Regions from separate parts of the Homo sapiens genome. Here all the other regions are reported to be linked to region 1. Evidence: microRNA targets listed by miRTarBase, many of them from high-throughput screens and not tested one by one. Region 1 holds a microRNA gene; each other region holds the end of a gene's coding sequence.

Region 1 (5,419 bases):
TGATTGTACTGAGGTTTAGTAGATTCTCCAACATGTATCTGTACCCCACCCACCCTGTACCCCACCCACCCTCAGGACATGCAGATATAATGAATGAGAAGGAGTCCATTCTCCTCCCTGAACTGTACACTCCATGAAGGTAGGGAACCAGATATGGCTCATTCTCTTGTGGGCCAACTGCCCAGGACAGCACCTGCAATAGAGTAGGTAGGTACTCAACAAATAGTCATAGAAAGGATGGAAGGAGGAGGTAGAAGTGCTCTGTCCTATGCGAAGATGTCACTCCCCCTTGCAGAATCCTTGCCTGGGTGCACTGCATTCAGAAAGCACTCTCACCCAGGTAGCAAGGATTAGAGAGGGGGAACCAGGACAGGAGATTCCAGTACCTGTACACCTCACATGTGCATCTAACAAGAAGGCTTGCTGTTCTTGCCTAGTGCATTAACCTTGCATTGAACTAAAGTAGAGAGAAGTTGCTTCGACAAGTATCAGGCTGGGTGCAGTGGCTCACACCTATAATCCCAACACTTTGGGAGGCTAAGGCTGGTGGACTGCTTGAGCCTAGGAGTTTGAGACCAGCTTGGGCAACATAGTGAGACCCCATCTCTACAAAAAATAAACACAAATTAGCCAGGCATGGTGGCACAAGCCTGTGGTCCCAGCTATTTGAGAGGCTGAGGTGGGAGGATCGCTTGAGCCCAGGTGGTTGAGGCTGCAGTGAACTGTGATGGTGCCAGTGCACTCCAGCCTGAGCAACAGAGCAATACTCCATCAAAAAAGAAAGAAAAGAAAAGAGAGAAGAAAAGAAAGGAAAGGAAAGGAAGGAAAGAAAGAAAAGAAAGAGAAAGAAAAAGAAAAGAAGGAAGGAAGGAAAGAAGGAAAAAACAAGAAACAAGTATCAATGTGACAGCAGGAATGAGAAGACTCACACTTATGGGTGGGTTAAGGTGGGAAGAGGGTAGATAAGAAGTTCCTATGTGGCCCACTCACCCTCAGTATATGCAGGGGCAATGAGTGGTGACAAAGTCCATTCTCCTCTCAGGCTATAATATCCAGGAAGGCAGGGGCGAAGTCTGCCTTGTTCATTTCTCTGTGTCCAATGCCCATCATGGTGCCCAATACATATTATTTGTGGAAGGAAAGAATGAATGAGGGTCAGAGAGCAGGCAGGCAAGCAGCAAGCAGCTGAGAGGTGACATACAGATCTTCTGTTCTCCACGCAGAGGGGGCTCACCCTCTCAGAATCCTTGCCCGGGTGCATTGCATTCAGAAAGCACTCTCACCCAGGGACAAAGGATTAGAGAGGAAGAGCAGAGCAGAAGACTCAGGCACCTGCACCCTGCATGTATATCTCCATATATATTTGACTTTCATGGTCCCATTCCTGCAAAGTATCTCTGTGTGCATTTGCTAAGACAGATGCCTCTCCTCAGGGATAGCATATGTATTCATCCCCCTGCACAAGGCCACATGGACATGCCCTCTCAGACAAAACCTCAGACTAGAATGAAAGATATGAGTGGCATCTTTTTCAGATCACACTTGAGGGTCTGCAGGTGCTGGATGTATTTGGGGCCTAGCAAGGAGGTTGGGACAAACTGTATGTGGGCACACATGTACATGCACATGTTGGAAGATGGTACAGAAAATTGGGATACTTCATTCTCTTCTGTTTCTCTGGTAAACTATAAGCTCACTGAGAGCAAAGACTGGCTGTGCAAGTCTCATCACCCAATGTGTGTTTCCCCATTACAGTATCTGACACATAGTAAGCTGGGAGTAAACAGAAAGCTCATGCTCTCAAAGAGGTGTAAGCTTGTCCAGGGCAATGATGAAGTTCATTCTCCCACAGGTGCCCTCTACAGAGCCCAGGGACCTTAGCTGTCTTATTTACCGTTGTATCTCCACCACCCAGTGCAGGATCTGGCACCGCATAGCAAACACAAACATGTGAAAGAAGGGGACAGGTTGTTGGTCCTTCTACATGTAGACAAGGCTCAGCCTCTTTGAATCCTTGAATAGGTGTGTTGCACTGAAATAGCACTCACACCTAGGTTCCAAGGATTCAAGAGGGGGAGCAGACAAGAAGGCTCTGACACCTGCCCTTTTTGTGTGTTTGTATGTGTGCATGTGTAGCTATAACCAAGTCTCACTCTCATGTATATACAGTGTCATTTACTAGGGACTTTACAGAAAGGCAGAGAATCTTTTCTCCTGCAGAGTTCCATGTGAGATCAGAGAAGATTCATGCTTTTGTGTATGTTTGTGGGTGACAGTGGTAATGAGAAGTCCACTCTGTGGCCCACCCACTCTCAGGGCATGTAGGTGTAATGGATGATGAGGAATTCCATTCTTCTTCCTCAACTGTAGCTCCATGAGGGTAGGGACCAAGCATGTCTTGTTAGCAACTGTATGCTCATTACTCAACTTAGTATCATATACAGAAAAGGTGGTCAATAAATACTTGTGGAATGGATGATAGGAGGACAGAAAGACGCTCTGTCCTACACGAAGATGAAGCTCTCGCTCTCAGAATCCTTGCCCAGGTGCATTGCATTCAGACAGCACTCTCACCCAGGTAGCAAGGATTAGAGAGGGGGAGCAGAACACAAAGCCCTGTGAATGTTCAGTGAGAGGGCTCATTCTTCTTCACACAAGGTACTTACTTGTCATGATATAGAAGTAAAGAGAACAGTTCTTGAGCTTTGCATTAAAGATGTCTAGTTAAACACACATTTTGTCTGTTCTCTCAGATAGTAACAACAAAAAAGTATAAACCTATAAAGAGACTGGGAGGAGAGAGGAGTGTGAAAGGGAGGAAAGAGAGAATGAATATAACGCCAAAGCTCATGATCCCGCAAATGCTTTGTGTGACTATGCAACAAGAAGGCAGTACAGTTTAGCACAGTTGTTCTCTAACATGCACCAGAATCATCTGAAGACCTGGGTAATATACAGGTTACAGAGGTTTCTGACTTGGTGAGTCTGGGGTGAGACCCAAGAATTTGCATTTCTAACAAGTTCTCAGGTGATACTGATGCTACTGGTCCAGGGACTACACTGGGAGAATCACTAATGTAGTGGAAAAACCAGGCACTTTGGTATCTACGAACCTTGGTTCAAATGCACGCTCTACCACATATTAGCCTAGAGAATCGACCTGATTTTCCCAAGGTCAAGTTAAACACTTTTGAAGAATGAGGACAATTTAAAGCCTACCTCTTAAATGGTGTCAAGAAAATGAAATAAAGTATAGTACCTGGCACACAGCCGTCAATATTTTTACCTCTTACTCTCTATTTTTATGTATATATGTGTTTGAATGAATGTGCATTTTTAAGGGGGATGGTGAAACTCCTGCATGCAAGGGACAGGTGAGAGAGAAGAGGTCCGAGTATCTGTGAGTGTGAGTGCCTGCACAAGGGGATACACAGATTCATCCTCTTAAATTCCTCACGTGTGAGTTGATGAGGTTCTCCTTCAATCTCCCTAGGTCAACAAAGTTCACGCCCCTTCACATAAGGGATATGAAGGAAAACATCAGAAGTTCCACTCTCTCTGTGTGTGTGTGTGTGTGTGTGTGTGTGTGTGTGACAGAGAGAGAGAGAGAGAGAGAGAGAGAGAGAGAGAGAGAGAAAGAGAGAGAGAGAGAGACAGAAAATGAGTAAAGATGGGGGCATCTGGCCCTGTGAGTATAATCAAAAAGGCTCCTGTCTCTCCTGTCCCTGTATGCTCACATGTCTGCATATGCTGGGCACCCAGCCACATGTGGGCCTCCCTTGCATGCTCATTCTCCTGTATGCCTTGCTTGTGCACATGTGCATATACGAGTATTTGTGTATCTGTGATTGTGAGAGAGAACATTAACAAGGAAGTGCATCTTCATTCAACAGCTACCTAAGGGAAGAATGCCGAGACAGCTCACTGCCCTTTCTGGGAGGGCAAAGAGAGTAGAGTTAGGGCAGGAAGGAACCACCCACTGCTTACCTGATCAGTGGGACTCCGTGTATACAGGTCTACATCCCTAGATGCCTGACCATCCTGGGGGACAAGGTGGGGTGCTTGGGGGGTGGGAACTAAAGTAAATTCATTCTCCAGTATCCCCAGCATGTGTGCACACCTGCACAGTGAGTACAAATGAGCTTTATCCTCCTATATGTGCTAGCTAGGCAGTACACTCAGGGGACTGTGGCTGTACTGTTCTCTTCTGGCTCCCTACAGGAGTAAATAATACTGGCAGGCAGCAGGAGAGGTAGGCGATGTACAAGGGCTCTGTCCTTCCATCTGCAGCTAAGGCTCACCCCATCTGAATCCCTGCCAAGGTGCATTGCATGTGGAGAGCACTAGTACCAGTATCAAGGATTAAAGAGAAGGAGCAAATGAGAAGGCTCAGGCACCTGTACCCCAAGGATAGCATGGGAGTTAGGAAAGAAAAAGCTCCCCTTTTCCAGCCCCTTGAACACATGAAGGCAGGCTGAATGGGAATGATGAACTGTGTTCTCTGGCACAAGCTCACCCCACAGTAAAACCAGGGTCCCTGATGCTCTTGCCACTATTGGATCCCCAAATCCAACAGGCATTCAAAAAGCTCTCTGAAAGGAACTAGGAGAGGTGACAGGCACTCTCTGCTCTGTGCATAACATACCATCTGTGAGTCCTAGCCCAGGTGTACTGCACTGGGACAGCACTTGCATGCGGATGCTACAGATTAAAGAGGCAGTGTCAGCATATGTACCCAACTCATATGTGACAAAGAGGGAAGAGAGGGCTCAGTCTCCTACTCCTCTTTCTCTCACACTTCACATGCAATGTATCAGTAAACTCAACTGGCTGTAACTTTAAAATATAACCACTTTTTACTACCTTCACCACGATCACCCTGATGTAGGCCTCCATCCATCTCTCAACTGAATTATTTCAATGGCCTCCTAACTGGTCTCCCAGTTTCTGCACTTTCTCCTCCTATTTGCCATACAACAGTCAGAACCATACTTGTGAAGCAAAGACACAGAAAACTGTAATCCTGATTTTGAATCAGAAGTATAATGGAATCATGATGTATTTATCTAGAAACAAGAAAACACAAAAACAAAACATTTTTCTGTTCTGATCATTGTAGAAGCCTAAATACAATGACCAATCCAGAGGCAAATATGGTCTTTAAATATCATGTCTGATTAAAAGAAACCAGGGCTTCTTGAAGACATGGCAGATTCCAGGCCTGGGGAAGGTATCTGCGATGAGCTTTGTACATTTTTTTCATCTCTGAAAGCGGAGAAGCTATCAGATAACTACGGAGGCATGTCAAAAGGACTGAGGAACCAATTTGAAGAAGCTCCTACTGGCTAAAGATGGGGCACTGGAGCTTCACTGAAGGCAAGAACTGCAATGGATTAAAAGTCCAAATATATTTAAATCT
Region 2 (5,419 bases), not on the chromosome of region 1:
GAGAAGAGTGAGCCATACTGCTTCCGGAGGGAGGAAGCCAGGGGGCTGAACAGCAGTCACCCTTGGAGTGACAGGCAATTTGGGTGGGATGGACGAGCTAGAAAATCAGTCTGTGGCTCCTGGAGTGCTGCAGCCCCACTCCCATCCACCCCTGTTCCCCGGAAGTGGGGATACCAGGAGACCCAAGGTGATGGCATGAGGCTGCGCAGGAGGCGGGGAAGGGAGGGAGGAGAGGCGCTTCTGGTAGAAAAGTAGTCAATCCACAAAAGAGTGCAGTTTCACATGTTTATTTTTGGCAGGAAGGAAATCATTGCAAACCTTTTGATTGACAATACTCGCCCCTGGAAACGTGCACATTCCGCATGTAGCATTTCCTAAGTAATGCTGGATTGTTTATCACATTCAAATGTCCAGCAGAAATCCATGACTACCCAGACACCAGCATCTCCACTACCCGGGGTGGGGGAGGGTGTGTCAGTCTGCAGAGAAGCTCCTGGGAGAATGGAACAGGAACAGACATGATCAAAGTTACAGTACAGTAGGAACAGAGGCAGCCAGCCAATTTTGCACAGTTAACTGCAAGTACGTCAAGCCATTCACTCTTCTCGAACCCTGGCATGCCAACTGTCCAGCACAGCACCTTTAAAAGCAGAGGCACAAACGTAGGATTGTTTGACCATAGGGCTGTGTGGTTCTGGATTTTTTATTAGAAAGCCATCTTTAAAAATACAGGGTTGTAAAATGTTGCCAGGTTACAGACTTACAGGTTTTTTTTTTTAACACCAAAAGTTCAAATGCTGCAACCATGACAAGTCAGCATCATTAGGGCATCCTCGTGTCCCCAGAGACATCTCATCAAAATTGCACCACGTCAAAGGAGCTTCCTCACCATCAACTGTGGCAGGTGGCATTCCTTTTTCAGTATGCAAATGCATTATTTACAAACAGCTAATGCATGGAACCACAGACCAACACGTAGGATTCCAGAACAAATGGAAGACAGAGCATTAACAACATTGGGAGTGCCTGTGCACTTCCACTGGAGGCCTGGCCAGAGAAGTAATAACATCATAGTGGGCTGCAGTCCACAAACCCAAGGTGTCCTGTCCCAGAGCTCAATGTCAAAAATACTTCTCCAGAAGACTACATTTAAACCTGGTACAGAAAGGAGCATGGAAACTCAGGAGGTCAGGGTTCTCTTTTGGCTAAAGAGTTGGGGGTATTTTGGTAACATGGGAAGTATATGGCACAGAGAAGTGGCTAACAGGTTTCATTAGGTTTCAAAGCCCACAATTTAATACATGGTAATAATTAAAAACAATACCCGTATTTACCTTAAAAAACATAAACCCCAAACATTCGTCTCATTTCTTGGCCTTATGTTAGAATTCTATTGCTTCATTTACATGTAGATGATTAAAAATATATAGATATAGATATAGATATAGATATAGATATTTTGATTATGTACATAAAGCAGATTCAAGGGTTAAAATAAAAACAGAATTTTGGAGTGTGGTCAAATAAGGTGCACAGATTCCAGAACCCTCAGAGGGCCTGCTGGCCCTCTCCAGACATTCTGTGTCCGTGGTGCAGGAGCTGGGCCCGTCCCTAACAGCTCCGCACTGGCTTAGTGCAGTGGTGCTCACAGTTTCAGGAACTACTAGGTGAAGTGTCTGGCTCAAGTCTGCCAAGTGTCTTCACTCCATCGTCAGAAGTGGAGCACTATCCCTAGGTTCGATTCCCATGAAATATTTTATGATTTCCATCCTCTTTGCCCGCTCTTCCAAATAAGGCCCTGTGATGCCAACGAAGGGGGCATGGTTGAGGGTCTAAGGCTCTCATTAGGGCCTAATTCTGTGTGGATATCAACACATGACAGACACTTGACTGCAACATTCAAGACATTTAAGGCAGTGGGTTCATTTAATGACTACTTTTCCAAATAAATATTTGTGGCATGGGCAGTTCTACCATGTAACTGTCATTATCTGTGGTAATATCTAGCAAGGGGCTGTTCTATTTGAATTGGCATGTGGATTACTGGTTTGGAACACTCAGAATGCTGGGAGACCTGTTTACCCCCTGAATACTTACTTCCCTTCTGAATATTCACACAGCAGTCCACAGACCAAAGTGCTGTTGGGAGGATGTAATTGGCAGCTGGCTTCATTACTTTGTGAATGAAAGCAAAACAAAGATATTTTACTTTGACCCCCGATTTCCAGTCTTGTTAATGCCAGTCACTCCCACCAGAATGCTGGCTGAAGACCAACCCACAGAGGACTAAGGCAATGGTGCCAATATGAAAGGGTTCTTTTTAATTGTTTTTAAGAGCAATACTTTACAGACTGTCTTGTTGTCAAACAAGGAACATGGCACTGCTTAAACACCAAACTGGGAAAGGCTGCAAAGAGAGCCTGGGCTCTCCCTGTGGGAGCTCTTCCTCTCCCTGGTTTGGGGCAATGAGTCCCACATCTAGACAGGCTTCCCCAACCCTTGGCTCAGAAATAGGCTGTGCTTCAAAGGAGAAGACCAAGAGATGGACTTGGGCCACATCAGCTTGGTGGCTGGTTGAGGCCACAGGTTCTCAAGAGAGAACAGTCAGCTTATTTATCAAACAGGATCTGATACTGACTGCAGTTTAAAATCCATGCTACACCTAAGTGGTGCTGTGGTCCTTTTGCCTTTGTACCCTTCAGTGGCCAATGCCAGGAAGGGGTTACAGGTGGTGGAGGCTGCAATGGGATGGGACACCTCTGTTTCTGACCCTGTCCGAGTTTGTAGCTTAGCAGTGAGCATATTCTGAGCATAGGCACAGTGGCAAAGAACAGTGTAACAGCCGCTGGTCAATTCCATTTGGTGGCAGCGCGGTAGCAGCAAGGAAAATTCCCAAACAGCTCCATGTGTATCCAGCTTTTGGAAAGGAAAGATTTAAAAATCAATAAACAGATTTCTTTTATATCCAAGGGTTTTAGGGTTTCTTGTAACTGCTCTACCCAAACAATAACAACAAAAAACACAAATGTATGGCAGTAGTGTGAGAGCAGAAGTGACAGGATGTCACTTTTCAAGGAGAAAATGTGACCTCAAGACAAACTTGTCACCATCAGAAATAATAATATAAAATAATCTATTGTTTCCTAAAGTGTTGAGCCACACAATTGCAGATACATTCCAAACTGGGTCAAAAATGAGTGGAGACAATGACATAGTCATGAAATCCTCCTATCAGGAGCCTGACCCTGCAGCATGCCACAGGTTGTCAGAGCAGTCACACCTGTTGGGGGACAGGCTCCTGTGACTCACTCCCCTCCCTCAGCACCCCCCGCCACACACACACACGCTACCAGGTTCTAGAAAATTGTCATGTTCATCTTCTTATAGTATCTAAGACAATAAAAGACTAAAAGATGTCTGGAAATATGTTGTGTAGAAAAATTAACTCTCGGCTTAAAATAACATTCAAAAGGCACTTCATCCTGTAGGAAAGAGATTCTGAGTTGGGTCAGCTGCTCTGAGCTGGGATAGAAGGGGACAGGTGGTCTGCTTGGAGGGGAGGACAGTTGAAAGGAAGTCTGATAGAGATCAAGCTTTTTTTTTTTTTTTTTCTATTTTTTTCTTTTTTGGTATGTTTTAAGAAAAGCAAACCCAGTAAAATGCATGTCCCTTTATGAAATTTCTTAAAAGAGTTCTTTTAAAATAGTTGTTTCTGTTCTTAAAAAAACAAAACAGGTAGGCATGGCCACATTCACCCTGTGGCCTGGAGCACGGAGTATCCTCACTTTCAGCTCCCAGGGAGCTGAGGACAGGCAGGTCCCCTGAGGCCAGAGGTTCCAGAGTGCACAGGCGGGAGGCAGGCAGAGGCCAGGGCTACCTATTGCAGAGTCTGTGCAGCATGCTGTACACGTCGTCCTCCCGGCTCAGGCCCTCAAAGAAGGGGATGAGGTCCAGCAGCTCCGTGTCCGTCATGTCATCGAACCAGGACTGCACAGGCACCTGGAAGACAGTGCATGGAGGAGGCAGCAGGACTGCATCTAGCGCTGGGGGCTGCTCCTAACCTAACCGGGTACCCGGACTTTGAGCACTTTCTTTAGTAAGGACGACTGGTGTCATCATCGTTATCATCATGATTTTGTTTGTTCCCTTGTTCAAATTGAGGCCAATCCAAAGCTAAATGGCTTGGGAGATGGCTCAGGGAGGCAAAGTTAAATGTACCCAGTTTGTGTGCATTTGCCTGTTTTGTTTTCCTGCCACAGAAAAAGGTGGCCAGAGCATAGAATGTATGAGAACTAGCCTTGCTACTTGCCAACTTCCAAAAGCTCTTTCTACTGCACAAGATCGGTTCCTTGCACCTCAGAACACTTGGAGCCAGAGCTTACAAGCCAACCACTGACAGCGCGGAGCTCACATCCAGGACACAGGAAGGCTTCCACTTAGGGTCACTGTGCAATATTACATCACAAAGAGAAGTGGTAAATTTCCTCCCTTGCTTAACAGTGATCAGTTAAAAGTAAAAGTCTAAAATTGCAGAACATTCTGAAGCTATGGGCAAAGACAGGATTTTCCCTTAGTTTTAGGCAGAGGAGTGGGGAGGGGTGGTAGCCAGGGGTACAAAGGAGAGATTTATAAACAAATTTGAATAAACCAAACATGTTTAAAAGTAACATTTTAGCCCTTTTACAAATCTAAAGATAGCTTAGAAACATAGACATTTATTACGTAACTTTGAAAAATAAAGTAAGGACTAATAAAGAAATGACTACGCCTAGGGGATGGGGAGAGAGTGGAGGAGAGGGCAGAAATGGACACACTTCTCTGTCTTTATTTATAGTTTTGATGTCGGAACCATGTAAATGTGTTATATAATTAAAATACAATTAAACCATTAAGAAAAAAAGCAATAAAAGTGAATCTAAGTGTATATAAAATTGGTGACACAACCACACAATTACTTCAAGTGATTTGTGTGTGTGTGTGTGACACAGCGTCACACTCTGTCACCCAGGCTTGAGTGCAGTGGCAATCATAGCTCTGTAGCCTTGACCTCCTGGGCTCAAGTGATCCTTCCACCTCAGCCTCCCAAGTAGCTGGGACTATAGGCATGTGGCACCACGCTTGGCTAATTTTTTTTCTTTTCTTTTTTTGAGATGGAGTTTTGCTCTTGTTGCCCAGGCTGGAGTGCAATGGTGTGATCTTAGCTCACTGCAACCTCCAACTCCTGGGTTCTCCTGCCTCAGCCTCCTGAGTAGCTGGGATTACAGGCACCTGCCGCCATGCCCAGCTAGTTTTTGTATTTTAGTAGAGACAGGGTTTCACCATGTTGGTCAGGCTGGTCTTGAAATCCTGACCTCAGGTGATCCACCCACCTCGGCCTCCCAAAGTGCTAGGATTACAGGCATGAGCCACCACCCCAGCC
Region 3 (5,419 bases), not on the chromosome of region 1:
AACATCCCACATTTCACTATGGTTTTAATCACCAAAGAAAGAAAACGACAGTTTGTATATAGATGGGTAAATGATGTCTCCAAGTATGGTGTACAGTTGCTCAGACAATTCTTTATGTGGCCATCTTCCCACTACATTTTTTTATTTATTTATTTGAGACAGAGTCTTGCTCTGTGGCCCAGGCTGGAGTGCAGTGGCACGATCTCGGCTCACTGCAGTCTCCACCTCCCGGGTTCAAGCATTCTCCCGCCTCAGCCTCCTGAGTAGCTGGGATTACAGGCATGTGCCACTATTCCTGGCTAATTTTTTTGTATTTTTAGTAGAGACGCAGTTTCACCACGTTGGCCAGGCTGGTCTTGAACTCCTGACCTCAAGTGATCTGCCCGCTTTGGCCTCCCAGTGTGCTGGGATTACAAGTGTGAGCCACCGTGCCCGGACCCTACTGCATTTTTAAATCACTCAGAAGCTTGATTGAAAACCTGTGATCGGAGACAGTGATTCTTCTCAGAACCACAGCTTTCCTTGTTGCTGATGAGAATTTATAGCATATGTAGCATAGGCTTGTTGGAACAAATACACAAAAGTTCTAAATTGTTTTAGATAATTAAAATGATTTTAATTAACATGACTAATTTTGATACCATATTTAGTCTTATGTGGTGTTGCTAGGAGACCTGCTGCTTTGTGGGAAAGCCAGAATCGTTGAAATCTGCCTGAGTTCCATCAAGTGCTAGCTTTTCCCTTGCTAGCTGTAGGACTTTAGGCAGGTGGCTTAACTTTGCTGATCCTGTTTCCTCAGGTGTAAAACGGGGATAACAATAGTAGTACATGCCTCCTAGAGTCATAAAGATTGTGAAAACAAGTGAAACATTTACTCTGACACATGTAGTATGCACATGCCATGTTACCACGACAGGGATGTGAGAATTGAAATTATGCCTGTCAAGCACTGAGCACATTATGTGACACTAGGCACTAAGGGGCAGCTGTCACTGTCATGGTTGTGGCTTCCAGTACAGTGAGGACGTCAACGGTTAAAAATGTACTTTTTCTTTAGCCAGGGAGGCAAAGTGTCACACTGAGACAGAATAACCTGCCAGCTCAGAGTGGATCTCATGCTGCTGAGAAAGGCAACAGCGACTGGCCAGAGAGGCCTGGACTGACACAGACTGGCCCTGGACACAGACGGATGCTGCGGAGACACACGGTAGAGGATGCGGTCGTGTCCCAGGGCCCGGAGGCTGCTGGCCCCCTCTCCACTCCCCAAGAGGTTAGTGCTTCCCGGTCCTAACAGGAATGAGGAGTTGTTGAACCCACTGCTAGGAAGCAAGGATGCAACAAGATGATGCTGAGCGTGAACACATCTGAGAACTAAATGTGCTTCCATGAGACTGGCTTGAGAAGTCTTCAGCACCAAGTTCCTGAAAGCTTTTCTGTGGCAGGAAAGAATGCAACAAAAAAGTTAACCACCACCATCTCTCTCCTCTTCAAAGCTAATGAATACAATTGAAACAGACAAAAATTCCAGTAGCATCCAGATCCTTAAGCCAGAGGTGCATGCTTCTTTTTAAGTATGAGGGTTTGTTGGTCACAGTGGGAGAGGTTTCACCACCGCATTCTGACCTCCTCCTCCCAAAAGGTGCTAAACCTCTCTGACCTGTGTACATTCACAAACCACAGCTAGAATTCCTCCACCTAGGATTAAGCTGGAGAGAAGTAAGTAATTTAGGTTTCATGGTACTGTAGAGGCCAGGCTGAAATGTCATATCTGAAGGAAGAAAGCAGCAGCTGGACAATGTTTCTTTGCAAAGCAACACTCGAACCAAAAGATGCCTCAATCCCATTTTGATATTCATTTTAGTGAAAGGATGCATCAGACCTGTTCCACATCATGCACATGGGAAAGGGTGGTTATCATTTTCCTTCTAACAAGTAGGTACAGATATTCGGTTACTACACGTGCACCTGTAGCAGTATTTCTAGAAACATCCCTTTTTGTTGAGAACCTCCCTTGAATGTCTGTCACACTCACACCTGACGGGATGGTTACTGGATTAGAGAGTAGATTTGGCACATCTTTTCTTAGTCTTTTGATTCAAATTCAAAACTTAACAGCACAAACCAGGTCAGAGTTACTTTCGGTTAGAATTTATTGCCATTTATTCCTTTTTATAAATTTCTATAGATTATACTGTTATTTTTATGTTATTGGCCTAGAGCTACACGTATATGGGTTTGTCCTGAGTCCGTTTTCAAATGACCTTGTGATAGGGAAATGGTTTTGTCCATGTTCTTGGAAATACTTGTGTATGTACAGAAGGAAGGGAGGGATTATTTTTCTACAAAGTAATTTATGATTTCTAATTTTCTAATGTGCCTTGGATATGTGCCAAATGATGGAAAAGAAACAGTAAACTTTATGATTCTTGACTGTGTCATGGTATTTTTTTTTAGTTGTTTGGCTGCAGATGATATGTTTCTCAGCCTGTCTGCTGTAAACATGTGCTTTGTGTGTGAGAAAAAGGGTCCCCATTGAATGGATATACATTTTTCAGTTATAGATGTGAGATTGAAACATGGGAACTTGATCACTTAGCTCATTATTCATCTACTGACCAAGGCCTACTTAACCCAGTAGGCACAGTGTCCCGGGCCCACAAAAATGTTTTTCTTTGGAAATCAGAAGAATAAAATGAATACAGCTTCCTACCCCAAACAAACAGGAAATGAGCCCTGTTGCTTTGCTAATTTCTTTGTTCTGATTTTTCCTTTTCCCTTTTTTTTTTTTTTTTGAGATGGAGTCTCGCTCTGTCACCCAGGCTGGAGTGCAGTGGCACCATCTCGGCTCACTGCAGCCTCCGCCTCCCAGGTTCAAGCAATTCTTCTGCCTCAGCCTCCTGAGTAGCTGGGACTATAGGAACCCACCACCATGCCCGGCTAGTGTTTTTTTTGTTTTTGTTTTTTTGTTTTTGTATTTTTAGTAGAGACAGGGTTTTTCACCGTGTTAGCCAGGATGGTCTCAATCTCCTGACCTCGTGATCCGCCCGCCTCGGCCTCCCAAAGTGCTGGGATTACAGGTGTGAGCCACCATGCCCAGCCTTCCCTACTTTTAAACAAAACCACCTTATAGACTGAAGCTGCTGTGGTTCTATACCATCCTAATTAATACATCCTATACAGTTTATCAGCACAGGTATTCTCAAGATACAAATACACACATTTGACACCACCTAATATGTTGGGGTAGTGCAATATAATTTTGAAAACATTTTCTTGAGATGATGGAGTCTCGCTCTGTCACCCAGGCTGGAGTGCAGTGGCACCATCTCGGCTCACTGCAGCCTCTGCCTCCCAGATTCAAGCAATTCTCCTGCCTCAGCCTCCCGCATAGCTGGGATTACAGGTACCTGCCACCATCCATGCCTGGCTAATTTTTATATCTTTGGTAGAGATGGGGTTTCACCATGTTGGCCAGGCTGGTCTTGAACTCCTGACCTCAAGTGATCTGCCCACATTGGCCTCCCGAAGTGCTGGGATTGCAGGCATGAGCGACTGCGCCCAGCTGAAAACATTTTCACATATACCCATTTAATTTCAACAATCACTGTGAATGGTAGAATTGTCAAATGAGGAAACAGGTTCAGAAAAATAAGGGGACTGCGAGGGATCTCACAGCCAGGATCAAGGCCTGGTTGGCAGTGGCAGCTGCAAGCTTGGTGTACCCTTCCTCTGGAGAGGTAAATGCTGTTTCTTTTTGAGCTATTCTGGTCATCAGTAATGTTTTCCATCTTAAGTGACTCCCTCGATTATTTTTAAAAAACAGTTGTCATCCTGGCCAACATGGTGAAACCCTGTCTATACTAAAAGTACAAAAATTAGCTGGGTGTGGTGGCGTGCGCTTGTAATCCCAGCTACTTGGGATGCTGAGGCAGGAGAATTGCTTGAACCTGGGAGAGAGGTTGCAGTGAGCCAAGATCATGCCACTGCACTCCAGCCTGGCAACAGAGCAATACTCCATCTCAAAAAAAAGCAAACAACCAGTTGTTTTTTCCAATTGCTTTCCCTACCCAAAACTTGATGTGACAGTTGAGAAATTAATGCCCCTAATTTCCATTTTTGTGGAAAAAAGTTTTGAATTCAAAGTAACGCAAGTTCACTGATTTAAATTAGAAAGTTTAGAATAACCACTCTCCACTCCCTAAAATGTACTCCAGCCTCTTATTGCCATCAGGAACCTCTCTCCTTGTACATGGAACCACTTTTCACTCTCAGGTAGGTGTCTGAAAGAGTCTGACCATCTTTAAACACACTCACAGCAGTTGCCATTAGGACAGTGGTTATCCTGTGAGAAAGCACAGAACTTGTGAACTGCCTCATGTCCTCCTAGCATTTGTATGTAAATGAGGCCTAAAGCAAAATTTACCTGTAAATGGGATTTTTTTCAAAATCCCCGACCAAATTTTTTTTAAATTACCAGTTTACCCTGACAGAAAATCCCCAGCCAGATTTCATCTTATGATCATTCTTTTAAAAATATGTTGATGTTCTCAACGGTTCTACTTATTTATAATGTTAGATATTGTTCTATTTCTTCACTGACAATAGTTGCAAATTTCAAATATAGTAGAATCTCCAGTTTAAACATGTATCAGTAGTATGCTGGCTAACGCAGAGACTGGGGTTTGCAAACCACATTTCCCTTCATTTTTTTACTAATCCTATTCACCTTGTTAAATTTATGAATTTAATCCTGTGCTAGGTCTCACAGGACTACGACATTTAAAAGGTTACACCAAACAGCTGGTTGATGGTTAAGTTTATGATTTAAATATATGAGCAGTGGCTTGCACCTACAGTCTCAGCTACGAGGGAGGCTGAGGTGGGAAGATCAGTTAAACTCAGGAGTTTGAGGCCAGCCTCAGCAACACAGCAAGTCTCCGTCTCTGAAAACCGTAACTTATGAGTGCAGGTTTTCATAACCTAGTGGAAAGAAAGCACAACAAAAGAGAGAACATTTAAGTCACCTGCAACATTATCAGTGATATGTTACCAAAATGTTTAAATGCTGAAGTGTCTCAACTGGATTTGAAATCATTAGAAGTCATTTCTCTTACAAACATGTTTATTACTGTAGTAGCATTACCAACATGTCTATTTTGGTCATTTTCTTTTTCAGTCATTATCACTCTAGTTATTTTGGAGGGAGTGGTATTTGTTAATATCAGTACCTCTGAAAAACAATTATAAATGAGATCAAAGCTAGCTTTTTTTTTTCTTTGAGATGGAATCACCCAGGTTGGAGTGCAATGGCCTGATCTCAGCTCACTGCAACCTCTGCCTACCAGGTTCGAGCCTCCCAAGTAGCTGGGATTACAGGTGTGTGCCACCACGCCCAGCTAATTTTTATATTTTTAGTAGA
Region 4 (5,419 bases), not on the chromosome of region 1:
TAACTGCAAAGTTCAGGTTGGTTTTTAACTGTGACACACCTCTAAACATGCCTTCATTTTTGAACAGAATTATGCTTGCACACCATTTAATGGTGACCCGTCCCCATAGAATCCTCTGTCTTGGAAATATGTTCTCATGTCCAGAGGTCTTCAAAGCCACAATTCCCACATGTAGAATCAACCACCAGGTTCAGAATCTGCCTATGGGTTTCCCTGAAACCCAACAAAAGCAGAATCACTCTGCACTCACCCATCCTGCCTTTATTCTACCACTGTCAGGGCTTTTGCTGAATGTCAAGGGAAAAGATCACAAAATGAAAGACCCCACTCTGGGCTGTGGCCGCTCCCTTGGGAGATGAGGTAGGGTAGCTCCAGAGGGGCACCTGGAGCTGTTCGCCTCTGCCTCTTGTGCTTCAGAAGTCGCAGCCCCTACAGGATTATGGGGAAGAGAAAAAGCGTATATGCTGTGCCCAGGTGGGTGGAACAGTGACCTGCAAAACCACGCCATAGCTGAGGACATCTACCAATCACTCATCCAATCATTTGTCCTAAATCACATTCTTTTTCTTGCTCTGGCTATACCACTACAGTTAAGACAAACTGCGAATCGGACTGATGAAAGGGGGAACCACGTCATTCTTGGCCAGGGAGCCCCCATGACCTAGGCAGACATAGTGAGGTGCACACAAGGGCCTCTTCACCAGTCAATTGAAAAGTCAGGAGTGCCACACTAAAGCACCCCCTTCCATCCAAGGAGAGGCACAGAATGAAGTCCTCAAGGCCTTCCTCACATGTCTGGCCTTGGCCTGCTGAGAGATCACCAGGGAATCACGGCAGCTTTGCAGCATGGCCTCCCCGCTGGCCTGCCCACGGAGTTGCTCCCATGTTTTCCCACTGGTCTTCATCTCTGTTCTGGTGTGGCTTCCTTGGAAAAGAGGAGCTTTATTGAAAGAGAATACCCCACTGGGCATGGTAGTTCATGCCTAATCCCAGCACTTTGAGAGGGCGAGGCGGGCAGATCACTTGAAGTTAGATTAAGACCAGCCTGGCCAACATCGTGAAACCCCATCTCTACTAAAAATACAGAAATTAGGCCGGGTGCAGTGGCTCACGCCTGTAATCCCAACACTTGGGGAGGCCGAGGCGGGTGGATCATGAGGTCAGGAGTTCGAGACCAGCCTGGCCAACATGGTGAAACCCCATCTCTACTAAAAATAAAAATTAGCCAGGTGTGGTGGTGGGCGCCTGTAATCCCAGCTACTGGGGAGGCTGAGGTAGGAGAATCGCTTGAACCCAGGAGGAGGAGGTTGCAGCGAGCCGAGATCATGCCACTGCACTCCAGCATGGGGGACAGAGCAAGACTCCATCTCAAAAAAAAAAAAAAAAATTAGCTGGGCATGGTGGCGCATAGCTGTAGCCCCAGCTACTCGAGAGGCTGAGGTGGGAGAATTGCTTGAATCCCAGAGGTGGAGGTTGCAGTGAGCCAAGATTGCACCACTGCACTCCAGCCTTGGGGACAGAGAAAGAAAGAGAGAAAGAGAGACAGAGAGAGTGACCAAGACAGACCACACACCCAGGTCTCGGATGGTAAGGGGCTGAAGCGGCTGCTCTTCTGCCTTTCTGCTGCTCGTGGTTCAGTCTGTTCAGATTGTTTCCTGTTGTTAATTGCGGCCCCATTCCATGTCTCAGTCCAAACTGCGAGAGCAACATGTCATTGCCTGGGCCTTCCAGCCAGGCAGGCCACACAGGTCAGAAGTGGCTGGCTAGCCTGGGGATGACCACCCCCTTCTCGGACCAAGATGGGCCATGGGAGGGGCAGGAATTCCTTTGAGAGGAGACCTAGGGGTGTGGGGTCTGGGCAGGTAAGGTAAGTGATACCTACTAGTTGCCTTGTTGCTTTTCCCATTTTCCCCAACTTTTCAGAAAAATGCTGGCCTTTATAGCGACATCAGGATGATGGTAGCTAATATTCTATTGAGTGTTTGCTGTGTGCCAGGCACTGTGCTGTGCTCAGCACGTGTTACAGGCATTAACTGTGTTCCCACCTTGGCTCAGAGAGGATTTGGTCACTTGCCAGGGTCCCATATCTAGCTAATGATGCCAAGCTTCTACTCCGTCACTTTAAGTTAGATAAAGTGTATGTGGCAGAATTCCCAAGTCCCAGAGGACTGCTCCATTGGGAGTAGGGAAGACCCAGAGCACGGCCAGCCAGGCTGGTAAGCAGTTGCCAGGTGGCAGGAAGTGGCTTACACTAAGGGTTGAAGCAAGGCAGAGAAGGGAAAATGTGAGCATTTCAGGACAAAACAGAAACAAACACCAACATTTCAGGAATGAGAAGCCAGAAGAGAGGGAAGGTTTGGCCAAAGGACTGGAAAGGGGCAAGAAAATGAAATATGAACCAGGAAGCTATAGGCAATCAGCAGAAGTCCACAGCTAATTTGCATAATAAAAGGAAAAGTCATCTTGTTGGAATTTGTGGTGGTGGCTGCCTAGATTTGAAATTGTATCCTATAATTTGCCCCATTTCCAGTGAGAACCAGCGTAAAACATTTCTAGAACAAACAGTATATTGCACAAGGATAGATTTACAACAAAAACTAGTTTTTCTAAGACTTGAAGCCTTCTGTCTTTTATCACAGGGGGACCCAGGAAGCCCAATGATGTGCCAGCTACAGCAGTTCGATCTGTGGGTTCTGAGAGGAGTCCTGAACTTCGGTGGTGAGACGTGCCCTGGCCTGTTTCTGTACACCAAGGTGGAAGACTACAGCAAATGGATCACATCCAAGGCTGAGAGGGCCGGCCCTCCCCTGTCCTCACTCCACCACTGGGAAAAGTTGATTTCTTTCTCCCACCATGGACCAAATGCCACCATGACACAGAAGACATATTCTGATTCTGAACTGGGCCATGTTGGATCATACTTGCAGGGACAAAGAAGGACCATCACGCATTCACGACTAGGAAACAGCTCTAGAGATAGTCTAGATGTTAGGGAGAAGGATGTAAAGGAATCAGGCAGGTCTCCTGAGGCGTCTGTACAACCCTTATACTATGACTATTACGGTGGGGAGGTGGGGGAAGGTAGGATTTTTGCAGGTCAGAACAGGTTGTATCAGCCCGAAGAAATCATCTTGGTTTCCTTCGTGCTTGTTTTCTTTTGCAGCAGTATCTAGTCCAGGAGCTACCCCACCAAACTGAAGAGTAAACTGAGAATGCTGAGTGCCAGGCATTCACCATGCTGTTTTGATGTCTGTTTTTGATAGTTGCACACTGGGGCTGCCACGGATAAGCCCATGGCATACACTGGGCTGGCTCTCCCTCCTCTATCCCTCTCCCAGGTGTGGGAAGGTCACTTTCACTATGCTTGTGAACTAAATGCTGGCTAACAAGTGTCAAACCATTAGAGTGCCCTGTGGTTCTTTCAGTGGTAACAGTTCCAGGGGCCAGGCTGTGAAAACACTCCCCATGGGCAGATGTGGCCCAGGAGATGATACGCAGCCTGGGTGGGGGGTTGGGAACACCAGGCAGACAGGGAACAGTGAGAGGAGCCCGTGACTAGAAAGGAGCTGATTACTTTTATAGGTCATGTAGTGGTCTGTAAGCCGTGGCCTGCCTCTGGCTACTTCCCAGCAAGGTAATCTGCCTGCAACTGCTCATTGGTTATTTTCATTCGATTCCAAGCCTTACGATGGCCTTTTAAGGACATCTGCAAAAAAAAAAAAGAAAAAAAGAAAAAAAATGATAAAGGAGATGGGGGAGAAAGTCACTTGGGGAAAACTGATTGTGGCTACTGAGAATGCAGCCCTCATCCAGCCCCGTGATGGTGCAGGCAACCCTGTGTGGGGCAGCGTGTCCTCCATGCATGCTGCTGTGTAGGGGCCACAAAGGGGCAGCACCCACCGGAAGATTTTTCTATAGAGCATGTTTCTTCTGTTCAGTAAAGTGAGAAGTTGCATGTTCCTGCCACGATTCTGCTACTTCTCAGCTTCGGATCTGAGGGGCCCAAATTTGGATCCTAATTTACTCTCTGCTGCAAAATGGCCGCAGGAGAGGCAGGACAAAGTAACACAGGAAATGGGAGCCAGGGTCTAGATGTGAAAACGCCAAGGTACCAGTTTTCCAAGTGACCTGACTGGCTTTCTAAGCTACTCTGATGATGTCCTGCATGACCTCAGTTTGCAACCTGGCCACGGCAGCCTAGGTGCTTGTCTTTCTTCTGACACCAGCATATGGTTTCCCATTGCCCATTTATCTCCCGCAGCTCACAGGAGCAAGGGTGCTTCCTGTCACATGGTACCATATTCAAAGTCTGCGGGATTCGTTCAAAAGCAGAAAGACCCATGGCGACTGTGTACATGCATGGAATGAGGTCCTGAGTGATATTAAAAAATCCATCACTATCTCATTTAAAAAAAAAATGGACTTCTCCATGTATAAAGTAGCAATCACTAAATTACCAGTGCAGAGGGATTCAGAAACTTCTAGAATTCATTAAGATAACAAGCAACTAAAAACACACTATTACTACAGAGTTTCTCCCTGAAAATGGAAAAGACTCTGCCCCTAACAATGCAAAAGGGGGAACTTTCAAAAAAAACAAATCATCCTTCGTCTTGGTTTAATAGTTAAAGCAACTGCTGAGGTTTCTCCCAGAAATTACATATCCAAACATCTGTATTCTTACCCCAAAGAACAAAATCCTAAGTGAAAACGTTGAAGACATAAAAGACTGCCCATCTTGGGGCTCCCCGTGGCTCACCTCTGCTATCTCCACTTTCCTTTCCCACATCCTGATGCTCTTCTCCAGGTCCGCATTTAAGATCTTCTCCCGGACGTAAGTCATCACCTGTGGTGCCCGGAACTCGGCCAGCTGCTTCCGGAGCCTCTTATTCACTGCCTCGGCTTTGGCCCGGTCCTGGGTTGGGAAGGACCAGTTACACCCAGGGAACCCCAGCAGCTCTTGCTTTGAGAACTCACTGGCCCTGCCATCTCTCCCCATAGTTCCAATAGAGTTCCAAAAATAATGTTTACATTTTCAAAGAGGTTGGGGAGGGGTGGGAATCACAAGATTCTGATTTTTTTCCCAAACATATTTTAAGCCAGTTCAGAAACACCTAGTGCAGTCTAAATAGTCTTGTTTCTTTCATTCCTTTTCTTCCCTCCTTCCTCTTCCTCTCCTTTATTAAGGAATATGTTGTACTTATTTTGACTTCTTAGGGTTTTTCTGTGTGTGAAAAATTGTGTATTTAAGTATACTTTGATCAGACTCAATTCACTTCCATGTCTTTTTTAATTATAAGATATATATATAACATAAAATTTATCATCTTAACCATTTTTAACTATACAGTTCTGTGGCATTAAGTACATTCACATTCTTGTGCAACTATCACCACCATCCATCTCCAGAACTCTTTTT
Region 5 (5,419 bases), not on the chromosome of region 1:
CATGTTGGTCAGGCTGGTCTTGAACTCCTGACCTCAGGTGATCCACCCTCCTCGGCCTCCCAAAGTGCTGGGATTACAGGCATGAGCCACCACACCTGCCGGGATCTCAGTTTCTAATATACTTTCCTTTGATTATTGTGAGAGCAAACATTCTCACGTTTATTGACCACATGGATTTCCTTTTTGAATTGCATATTCAGCCCTTTGCCCATTTTTTCTGTTGGTATGTTTGTTTTTATTGTTAATTTGTAAGAATTTTAAAAACTCATTTTGAATTATACTATTTTCTGACTCCAGTATAAATCAGAAGTTTTCAGATACATTTCTAATTTTATCAACTGTGGAGGATTACAAGTAGAAATATAAGTGCAAATTGAGGATGCTGCTTTAATGGTTCCTTCTTTAGTGAGGTTTTGAATTACTACATCATAGTACTTAGGGAGTCTTTTGGACATTTACTATCCCCTCCTATGTTCTGCAGTAATTTTTCTTGGGATACCTTGTTAATTTTTTAAAAATTTTGTGGTAAAATAATACCTAACATAAAATTCACCATCTTAACTCATTTTAAATGTTCAGTGGCATTAAGTATATTCATACTGTTTTGCTGCCATCACCACCATCCATAGAACTCTCTTCATCCTACAGAACTACAACTCTGTACTCATTAAACAACTCCCCACCCCAGCCATCACCATTCTATTTTCTTTCTCTGAATTTGACTACTCTGTACCTAAGTGGAATCATACAATATTTGTCCTTTTTTGTCTGGCTTATTTCTTATTTCATTTAGCGTAAAGTCCTCAAGGTTCATCCATGTTGTACCATGTGCCTGAATTTCCTTCCTTTTTTTTGAGACAGTCTTGCTCTGTCGCCCAGGCTGGAGTGCAATGGAGCAGTCTCAGCTCACTGTAACCTGTGCCTCCCAGGTTCAAGTGATTCTTCTGCCTCAGCCGCCTGAGTAGTAGCTGGGATTACAGGCATGCGCCACCACGCCAGGCTAATTTTTGTATTTTTGGTGGAGACAGGGTTTCACCATGTTGACTAGGTGCAGTGGCTCATGCCTGTAATCCCAGCATTTTGGGAAGCCGAGGCAGGCAGATCACCTGAGTTCAGGAGTTCGAGACCAGTCTGGCCAACATGATGAAAACCTTCCCTCCTAAAAATACAAAAATCAGCCGGGCGTGGTGGCGGGCGCCTGTAATCCCAGCTACTCGGGAGGCTGAGGCAGGAGAATTGCTTGAATCCGGGAGGCGGAGGTTGCAGTGAGCCGAGATCGCACCATGGCACTCCAGCCTGGGCGACAGAGTGAGACTCCCGTCTCAAAAAAAAAAAAAAAAAATTCTATTATATGTGTGTACCGTATTTTGTTTATTCACCTGTTGATGCACACTTGGGTGATACCTTGGTTATGGGGAAACATTAATGATAAATATGTGAAAGTCAGGTTACAAAACATGTAGTGTGATCTAACTTTTGTAAAATGACATAATGTAAAAATTCCCAAAGAATAACTAAAACATTGACAATAGTTACCTCTGGAAATTGAGGATATTTTGCTCATCTCTATTTCCTCCTTCTCTGTAATTATTATGATTTGGATTGCTTTTGTAGTAAAAATCAGTAAAAGATAAAAGCTAATGTAAATGTTAATAATTATAGATGCTCTTACAATATGTTAACTGTTTAATTGGCAGGCAGGTGTAATGCTTACCTATTGGTGGAAACCCTATGGGGCCTGAACTGACCTTGTAGTACTTTGGACCTGAGATGACTCTGGGACCAAATTATATCTGTTGCTTGTCTTTTAGGAAAGCTATTTTTGATACACCAGATGAGGATCCAAATTACAATCCACTACCTGAGGAACGGCCAGGAGGCTTCGCCTGGGGTGAGGGCCAGCGGCTTGGAGGTTAAAGCAGCAGTGCCAATAATGAGACCCAGCTGGGAAGGACTCGGTGATACCCACTGGGATCTTTTATCCTTTGTTGCAAAAGTGTGGACACTTTTGACAGCTTGGCAGATTTTAACTCCAGAAGCACTTTATGAAATGGTACACTGACTAATCCAGAAGACATTTCCAACAGTTTGCCAGTGGTTCCTCACTACACTGGTACTGAAAGTGTAATTTCTTAGAGCCAAAAAACTGGAGAAACAAATATCCTGCCACCTCTAACAAGTACATGAGTACTTGATTTTTATGGTATAAGGCAGAGCCTTTTCTTCCTCTTCTTGATAGATGAGGCCATGGTGTAAATGGAAGTTTCAGAGAGGACAAAATAAAACGGAATTCCATTTTTCTCTCACTGTATTAAAGCTTTTGTGTGTGATCTTTTAAATTCTGATAATGTATTGTAGCCCTCCTGCGTAGATCTGAGCTCAGAACAGTTTACACAGCTGTTCTTCCTGTGTCTTCACAACTTTTAACTGGATTTCATTTCAGGATTGGAAATACGTGGCTGTCATGCTGTGGTTGTGTACATCTTACTAACTCAGAATGCAAGATTCAGCAGGAAGATGATTTATTTCTGTCATCTGGATAGGTTGTTTTGCATCTGGGTTTTGCCAAACTTTGTCAGACAACATGAAAAAAAAGGAGGGAGGATGGTTCTTGTAGCAGTAGGAATTCAGCTATAGGAAAGTCAGCTGTAAGCTAATGTGGCATCTTATTTGCTTTACTTACATTTCTCCATTAAGAAGTATCCAGGGAAAGATTGGTAAGGGCCACATTTTTGTAAAACTAGGAAGATTTTCATTAGACTTTTTTTTTCTTTTATTTTTAAAAAAGTTTTAATTAAAAATTTTTTTTTAAATACAGATGGGGTCTCACTGTGTTGCCCAGGCTGGTCTTGAACTCCTGGACTCAAGCAATCCTCCCACCTCAGCCTCCCAAAGTGCTAGGATGACAGGCATGAGCCACCATGCCCAGCCATTTTTTTTTTTTTTGCCTTTTTTGTTTTGTTTTGTTTTTTGTTTTTTTAATTAAAAAAAAAAAATAGAGACAGGGTCTCAGATTTTCATTAGATTTGGAAACCAAGTTAGAATGTTGACTTTGGAGCCAGACGAACAGATACCAGTTAGCTAGGCATATGTTCTTCCAGGGTCTTTGGCTAGTTAACATTAGTCATTTGCTTCGTGAAAATTCAAGAACCTTTTCAGAGCCAAGTACCTGGATTACCTTCCCAATCAGGTAGAAATTAGACAGGGTCCACAGAAGTAGACACTTAATGCTGTGGTTCAATAAATACTTCCCCTAAATATTAAGTCTTCCCTGAGTCTCAGCAGGTTTGCATTCACACTGCTTAAGTAACTTCCAGAACCTGGAAGAGTCGAAAGAGCACCCCTAGGAAAGAGATGATTCCAAACAGCTTTCATTAACGGCATGTAGGCACAGGTCCCTTTCCCAAAAGTGGATTGTTAGTAGTAGTTCATTCAACCTTTGTTAAGGGGTAGCTTTCCAGAATGTGACATTGTCCTCAGAAAGATAGACATAGGCTTAAACATAATGGACATCCTAAATAGGAATTTTCAGATTGTTTTTGAAGTGAAAAGTGTTTTAATGTCTTTAAATGGAATTGCATAACTAATGGTATTTAAGTATTTTACATGTTGCTAATAACTTTGAATATGATTGTTGCAATTTTATGGAACCTGGGTCTATGGGACTGCTTTTTAAGCAGTTTAAAAAAGGTTTTCAAAGTTTAAAAGCCAATCTTAGCATGTATAATCCTTATGGGATTCTTAAGTTTTATCCTATCTTGTTTTTGCTCAAGAACGCTTTATCAGTGACGTTTGTTAGAATTTTGTTTTTTGTTTTTTTTTTTTAAATTGTTTTTGGGCTAGAAATGAGTTTCTCTAGTTTTATTTGTTCTCCCTGAGTTGGAGTTATGCAATGAATGGCATTTTTGTGGTAAAATACTAATCCTAAAATCTGTTAACTCACTGTTCATTTAAGTAGGGAATATCTGTATACATTAATGACTAGGTAAAACAGGAAATACATTTTGAATATACAGCCTAAAGGCAGGCAGTTACAGGGTTTTTGATTTCTCCGATTTTATAGGGTGCAAGTTCCCAGTGGCAGGATGCCCTGCTGTGTGACTGACTACACTGTGTCCTGAGCAGTGGTAATTTCAATCACCTCTCATCAGTTTGGCCAGCCCTACAACCACCATTCCTAGCCCTGTGTTGCTTGACAGGATACCTGTGCTTGAATGGACATAAGGAAAAGTCCTTACTTTCTCCCCAATTTACCTCTCAATCTTAGTTCTTCCAGAACACACTTCCCTTTCACAATGCAAATAAACTGAAAGTGAGATTTGATACATGGAATTTTGAGACCAACCAACTAACCTTACACATAATTTGAGGGATTCCTGGATTCTTCTAGTGATACTGAAAAGCACACTTGACTAAAGCATAGTGTTTTTTGTTTGTTATGGAAATACGGTATACGTTCATTTAAAAATAAATGGACATACAAATTGCATCTCCTTAGGAGATACATTTTATATACATTTCGGTGCGTTTTTTTCCAGTATGGATTTCTATTTGTTTCTCTCTTCCTCTTGTTTTTTCTGTGTCACTCTTGTATGTCCTCATATCTTTCATACCTCTTGTGTAGTCTCTAGAAGCAGAACACCTAAGTCCTGGGTCTGGATAATGAAACCCTCAGTCTCTGGGGCCTCTGAAAATAAGGAAGCATTGGAGCTATTGCCATGTTGAGTAATGGGCTTCCTAGAACTATTGTCATCTATCCTGCCAGTGTTTTATGTTGTAGCTGTTTTTCTTTGACAGGTGAGTTCCAGCTATGTTGTTAGTCATGATCCTGCCATTATTTTCTGTGTTCTGTAGGATGTCTCCAGGCTACTTAAACATATTTTATGAGTTTGCAATAAAATTGTTGAATCTTGTATGATCAAGTCACTCCTCTGCTCAGAAATCCACAGTGACTTCTTAGTAAGCCCCTACATTATATGCATACTTGTTTTTTTCTTAACTTTACTCCCACTTCTACCTAACAGGGACCTCAACTTAAGTCTCTTCAGTTCTTCAAGGCCTGGCCTTGTTCCTGATTCCTCAAAAAATCTTGACTCTAAGGCCTATTTTATTGTCTGTCTCTGAATCCCTATAAAGCTTCAAGTCTGTATGACATTCTTAACGCCAAATTATATATTGTCTTGTACTGTTCCTAGCTGGTACATGTATATTAGTCTTGTCTCCCTCATGAGAATGTAAGCTCCTTAAGGGCAGGGACCATGTCTTAATTTTTGTATCCACCACAGTGCCTAGCACAGTGCTTGGCACATGGGTGCTGAATAAATACCTTTGTTTATTGATCAGCAAAGTATTATCTGGTATTTTTAATTATAGAGGGATTAAAGTGTATGCATGCAAGCTTGAGCCTAGTTGCTGAAGC
Region 6 (5,032 bases), not on the chromosome of region 1:
CTTTAGGCCAGCAGTTCAAGACCAGCCTGCGCAACATAGCGAGACCCCCACCTCTACAAAAGAAAAAATTGAAAAATTAGCCGGGCATGGTGGGGCACACCTGTAGCCCCAGCTACTCAGGGGGCCAAGGCGGGAGGATCGCTTGAGCCCAGGAGGTTGAGGCTGCAATGAGCCATGTTCATACCACTACACCCCGGCCTGGGCAATAGAGAGAGACCGTTTCTCTTTTAAAAAAAGCAATGGAAAATGTGACTTGATGGGTCTCCTGACCATGCCTTTCTGTGCAGCAGAAATTGGGTGGAAGCTGAGCTATAGCCACCTGTGGGCACTGCCATGGCCGCAGGGCAGCAGAACTCTTCATGTACCCTCCCACCTATACTCTTGCAGCCACTGCCTTGTGACAAAGAGATCTTAGGATTGTCCAGACCATGGCTGCAGCCGCAGGGTTTCGTTTTGTTTTGTTTTTGAGACAGGGTCTTGCTCCATCACCCAGGCTGGTGTGCAGTGGTGTGATCATGGCTCACTGCTGCCTTGACCTCCTGGGCTCAAACCATTCTCCTGCCTTAACCTTCCGAGTAGCTGAGACTGCAGGTGAACGCCACCATGCCCCTCTATTTTTTTTTTTTTAATAGAATCTCGCTCTGTTGCCCAGGCTGGAGTACAGTGGTGTGATCTCAGCTCACTATAACCTCCGCCTCCCAGATTCAAGCAATTCTCCTGCCTCAGCCTCCCGAGTAGCTGGGATTACAGACGCGTGCCACCATGCCCAGCTAATTTTTTGTCTTTTTAGTAGAGATGGGGTTTCACCATGTTGGTCAGGCGGGTCTTGAACTCCTGACCTCAAATGATCCTCCCGCCTCGGCCTCCCAAAGTGCTGGGATTATAGGCATGAGCCTCCTCACCTGGCCGCCCATCTACTTTTTAAAAAAATTTATTGTAGAGATAGGGCCTTGCTATGTTGCCCAGGCTGGTCTTGAACTCCTGGCCTCAAGCGATCCTCCCGCCGTAGCTTCCTTTAGTGCCAGGATTACAGGCATAAGCCCCTGCGCCTGGCCTGCCACAGATTTTTATCATTGGTAGGATCATCATTCCCATTTTACAGGTGAGCAAACTGAGGCTTGGAGTGGCAAAGGCACACAACCAAGGTCCCACAGCAGGATAAAGAGCAGAACTAGGCTTAGAAGCCAGGTTTCTGTGATGCCACAGCTGAGACTCTGCCCTCAGGGGTCTTACGAGTGTCCCCACCTTAACATTCATCCAGGTTTCGAGTTCTTTGAAGCCAGTGCCAAGGAGAACATCAATGTGAAGCAGGTCTTCGAGCGCCTGGTGGATGTCATCTGCGAGAAGATGAACGAGTCCCTGGAACCCAGCTCCAGCTCAGGCAGCAACGGGAAAGGCCCGGCCGTGGGGGATGCTCCAGCCCCCCAGCCCAGCAGCTGCAGCTGCTAGAGATGGCCCCCAACCCCCCACCCACCCCTCTCCTGCCTCGGCAGGGACTGTGATCGAGGCGTGAGCCACAGTGGTTATCTCCAAGCTCAGGGCAATCCCTTCCCTCCTGTCAACTGCTCCCCGACTCCTGCATGGCTCATTCCTTCACAATGTCGCCGTGGCTGCCAGGTTCCTCAGGCAGCCCCGGTGGGAGGCTGCGGACCATGGGGACTCAGCTCTGCATGGCAGGCAGAGGCCCAGGGACACTGACGTGCATGAGCTTGCTGCTTTCCAGGGTGTGTTGAGGGTGGCCATGGGTGACACGTCCCACTCTTTCTGATGGAGGGGCATCCGTGGTGCCTTCTAGCTTAGAACCATTTTCCAGGTCTCTTCTGGGTTGGGCAGGACTGATATTCCCAAGCTGGTGGAAGATGGTTCATCTTCCTCGCACAGTGTGGGTTCTTGGAGTTCATCCAGGGAAGGCGGCGCCTCTTTCTCAGGTCCTGCAGGCTGGTCTCTGAGCCTGCCCCCACGAACTTTCTGGATTCCAAGGTGGGATGGTGATCCCTTTGACCCCTGCAGACCCTCTACTTGCGAAAAGCAGCATTGAAGCAGCCTTTTCCCATTGTAGAAGGGACAGGGAGTCAGATCCCCTCAACCCCCCGGCTTCAGGGACCCCAGAAGTGCCTTCCAAGCTTCCCCCAAGATCCACATCACCCACGACCCTGCCACTGTTTTTGCTGTGTTCACCACATCTCTGATCCTGAAGTGAATTCTGGAACTATGGACCACATTAGACTGGGCAGAGATTCGCCCAACCCCTAGCACTCCGGCTCTGGGCTTTCGGCCAGAAGTTAATTAACCTCAGAGCCAGGAGCCTGGGGCTGGGGCCTCCCTCCCAGGCCCTGTTTAGCTGTTTAGCTGGTTGTGTTTTAAGCAAGTTCTTGCCCAATCATGCATCCTGCTAGAAAAGGAAATGAAGCAACGTTCCCAGCCACCGCAGGCAGTTGTCGGCGACTTTCTGATGTAAGCACCTGGGCTCCGACTTGAGGGGGGCCCTTCAAGACCCAATGTCCATTTCCCAATCCTTGTCATCGGCAGGGCCCAGGGATGTGACAATTTTTGCTAATGGAGGAGTCACTTCTTTTTTTTTTTTTTTCTTTTTGAGATGGTCTGGCTCTGTCACCCAGGCTGGAGTGCAGTGGTGCAATCATAGCTCACCACAGCCTCAAACTAGGGGTCACTTCTAAGGGATGCTGGGGGTTGGGCGGAAGGGGTGAGGAGGTAGGATTGAGTAACTTGCTGTCACTGCTTGTACTTTGTAGACAGCCTGAGAGTGGCAGGACCTTATGTGAATGGGGGGGATGGACTGTGATCAGTGCCGGGGAGTCTCTGAAGCTGGGGTCCCCACCTCCAGGGGCTTCTGCTCAGAGGTTACGTGTGCAGTTTGAAGATGTACATCTTGACCTCCGGTTTAGAGGCACTTTCTGCCCATCAGATTCCAAACTCTAGGGGCGCAGCACCTTTTCTTTGCTCCCAAACACCAACCAACACCCCTTCACAGGACCAGCACTGTTAGGATGGCTAAGTGGATGTTTTATGTTCCCACGTCCCTGACTCTGTTTCAGAGGTTGTGTCTGCTCTCCCAGCCCCTGAAGCCAAAATGACTTCCTGCAGCTTTCATGAGCTCAGCCTCTTCCCTGGGGTATGTGTGAGGGGGAAAGCCTGGTTCAAGTTTAGATTTATTTCTAGGGAGCCCTGGTTTCTTCATACCAGAGGCTACCCTTAGAACTTTGGAGTGGGGTATCTTTTTTTCATTTGTTTTTTTGATACAGAGTCTCGCTCTATTGCCCAGGCTGGAGTGCGGTGGCACAATCTCAGCTTACTGCAACCTCCACCTCCAGGGTTCAAGCGATTCTCCTGCCTCAGCCTCCCGAGTAGCTGGCATTACAGGCACCTGCCACCACACCCGGCTAAATTTTGTATTTTTAGTAGAGAAGGGGTTTCACCATGTTGGTGAGGCTTGTCTCAAACTGACTTCAAGTGATCCACTTGCTTCGGCCTCCCAAAGTGCTGGGATTACAGGCGTGAGCCATCACGCCCAGCCGAGGGTATCTTTTATACCAACAAATTAGATGACTGAGGTGTAATGGACAAATCCTATGCACAAAGTGAGGGTATCTGAATATGTGGGCGGGAGTCAAAAATTTTTAGCTACTTTAACACTAAAGTCAAACTAAAGTAGCTTCAAAAAGACTTCTCAAGATGCAGTATGGCCTGCTGAGGTTTTTTTGTTTTTTTTTTTTTTAAGACAGAGAGTCGCTCGTCGCCCAGGCCGCAGTGCAGTAGCATGATCTCAGCTCACTGCAACCTCCACCTCCCGGGTTCAAGCGATTCTCCTGTCTCAGCCTCCTAAGTAGCTGGGACTACAGGCACCTGCCACCACGCCCATCTAAGTTTTGCATTTTTAGTAGCGACGGTTTCACCTTGTTGGCCAGGCTGGTTTTGTTGGCCAATTGTCTCTAAACTGCTGTCAAAAAAAGGAATGGATCAGATTGTCTTGAATAGGGCAGAGCTAACCTGTAATCACCTGTGTGATGAGAAACAGCTTTGACTGCATTTTACTCCTGACCTGGCCTAAGCTTTCTGTTTACATAAGATTTTTCAAGAATTCAACTTCAAGTAGCAGCCGAGAGAGCTGCCTCAGGATTCTCTCAAAAACTGGGAATAATATGGGAACATTTGTTTCTTCTAAAAATAAGGCAAATGTTACATTGAATGATTTGGGGGGTGAGGTTTAATTGGAAATGGTCTCTGGGGACTGAAAACTGATGTTTTTGCAGATTACCTCAGGGAAACGGAGGTTTGTTGAGTTTACAGACACATTAAACCAAAGGCCGTGGGAAAACCCCTCTCCAGCTCCAGGGGATTGGTCAGGACCACCCACTAACCAGTGCCTTCCTTCTTAACATTCACTTTTAGCAGCTTGTGTTTATTTTACATGGGCAGTTTTGATGGGAAATTGCCATGACCACAGGGGTTTGGAGTTCTGCTTTTTTTTTTTCTTCTTCTTTTTCGGGGGACTGGGGGACTCCTCCCAAGATCACATTTTAGCATCTTTCTCTCCTACTCCATTTAGAAAAATAAGTAACAGGTGAAATGTGGTCTCAGTGTTAACGGGATAATTCTGCTACCGGCTCCTCCCTGATGATTCTGAAATACACTACTGAACGAGCTCTGGCTGGTCCTTTCTATCCTGGATGTGGTTCTTCTGTGTAGCAATTCCTTGATGTCCAGTTTGGAAAGATGTACTCTTCTCAACAAGAAAAACTTAAATCCGTCGTGCCCAAATATAGTTGTGCTTTTATTTCCATTAGTGAAGTGCGTTTCTGGGAAAGGGGGTTTGATTTGCAACTAAGCAGATATCAGTCAAGGGCTCTTCAAGACACAGCAGAAACCTCACCGGGCCTCGGGCTGCCTCCCACTGGGTCCCATGGCCACCACCTTGACCTTGGAAAGCTCTGTTATATGGAAGGTAGGGAGGACACTATTTCCCTCAACTACTTCTAGTAAAAAGCTCAGTTCTCTCCCCAGCAGCAAGAGG

What was found. Region 1 holds the annotated microRNA hsa-miR-500a-3p (AUGCACCUGGGCAAGGAUUCUG, at 2,531-2,552, opposite strand). A microRNA usually pairs through its seed, bases 2 to 8, with sites in the 3' UTR of a target mRNA and lowers its output. Matches are read on the target gene's strand: a 7mer-m8 pairs with bases 2 to 8, a 7mer-A1 pairs with bases 2 to 7 and ends in A, and an 8mer does both.
Region 2: miRTarBase lists CTDSPL as a target of hsa-miR-500a-3p. Seed matches in the 3' UTR shown: 7mer-A1 at 862-868.
Region 3: the mRNA of ANKRD27 is a reported target of hsa-miR-500a-3p. Seed matches in the 3' UTR shown: 7mer-m8 at 1,552-1,558.
Region 4: miRTarBase lists CFAP263 as a target of hsa-miR-500a-3p. Seed matches in the 3' UTR shown: 7mer-A1 at 1,490-1,496.
Region 5: the mRNA of DERL2 is a reported target of hsa-miR-500a-3p. Seed matches in the 3' UTR shown: 7mer-A1 at 4,064-4,070.
Region 6: miRTarBase lists RAB3D as a target of hsa-miR-500a-3p. Seed matches in the 3' UTR shown: 7mer-A1 at 2,632-2,638.

Annotation. Positions count from the first base shown.
Region 1 is chrX:50,005,615-50,011,033 of GRCh38, reverse strand. MIR500A (microRNA 500a) reads right to left here and starts at 2,603; the gene lies at 2,520-2,603. The region is part of intron 3 of CLCN5 (chloride voltage-gated channel 5); the gene reads right to left. It overlaps MIR362 (microRNA 362), which reads right to left and starts at 2,070; the gene lies at 2,006-2,070. It overlaps MIR501 (microRNA 501), which reads right to left and starts at 1,312; the gene lies at 1,229-1,312. It also overlaps MIR500B.
Region 2 is chr3:37,979,322-37,984,740 of GRCh38, reverse strand. It overlaps CTDSPL (CTD small phosphatase like), which reads right to left. Exons shown (of 8, transcript NM_001008392.2): 8 at 272-3,999. The coding sequence ends at 3,874. Among named protein-coding and RNA genes, the nearest start is that of VILL, 8.8 kb to the left of the region's middle.
Region 3 is chr19:32,594,017-32,599,435 of GRCh38, reverse strand. It overlaps ANKRD27 (ankyrin repeat domain 27), which reads left to right. Exons shown (of 29, transcript NM_032139.3): 29 at 1,058-2,430. The coding sequence ends at 1,291. Among named protein-coding and RNA genes, the nearest start is that of SNORA68B, 12 kb to the left of the region's middle. RefSeq lists an enhancer at 5,248-5,419.
Region 4 is chr16:58,277,978-58,283,396 of GRCh38, reverse strand. CFAP263 (cilia and flagella associated protein 263) reads right to left here. Exons shown (of 9, transcript NM_014157.4): 8 at 4,760-4,915; 9 at 1-3,706. The coding sequence ends at 3,620. It overlaps PRSS54 (serine protease 54), which reads left to right. Exons shown (of 7, transcript NM_001305173.2): 7 at 2,640-3,400. The coding sequence ends at 3,173. Among named protein-coding and RNA genes, the nearest start is that of PRSS54, 14 kb to the left of the region's middle. RefSeq lists a silencer at 2,098-2,392.
Region 5 is chr17:5,471,182-5,476,600 of GRCh38, reverse strand. It overlaps DERL2 (derlin 2), which reads left to right. Exons shown (of 7, transcript NM_016041.5): 7 at 1,812-5,347. The coding sequence ends at 1,917. Among named protein-coding and RNA genes, the nearest start is that of DHX33-DT, 4.8 kb to the right of the region's middle.
Region 6 is chr19:11,321,815-11,326,846 of GRCh38, reverse strand. It overlaps RAB3D (RAB3D, member RAS oncogene family), which reads left to right. Exons shown (of 5, transcript NM_004283.4): 5 at 1,262-4,779. The coding sequence ends at 1,449. It also overlaps a transcript of TSPAN16 not described here. Among named protein-coding and RNA genes, the nearest start is that of TSPAN16-AS1, 3.0 kb to the right of the region's middle. RefSeq lists an enhancer at 2,390-2,599.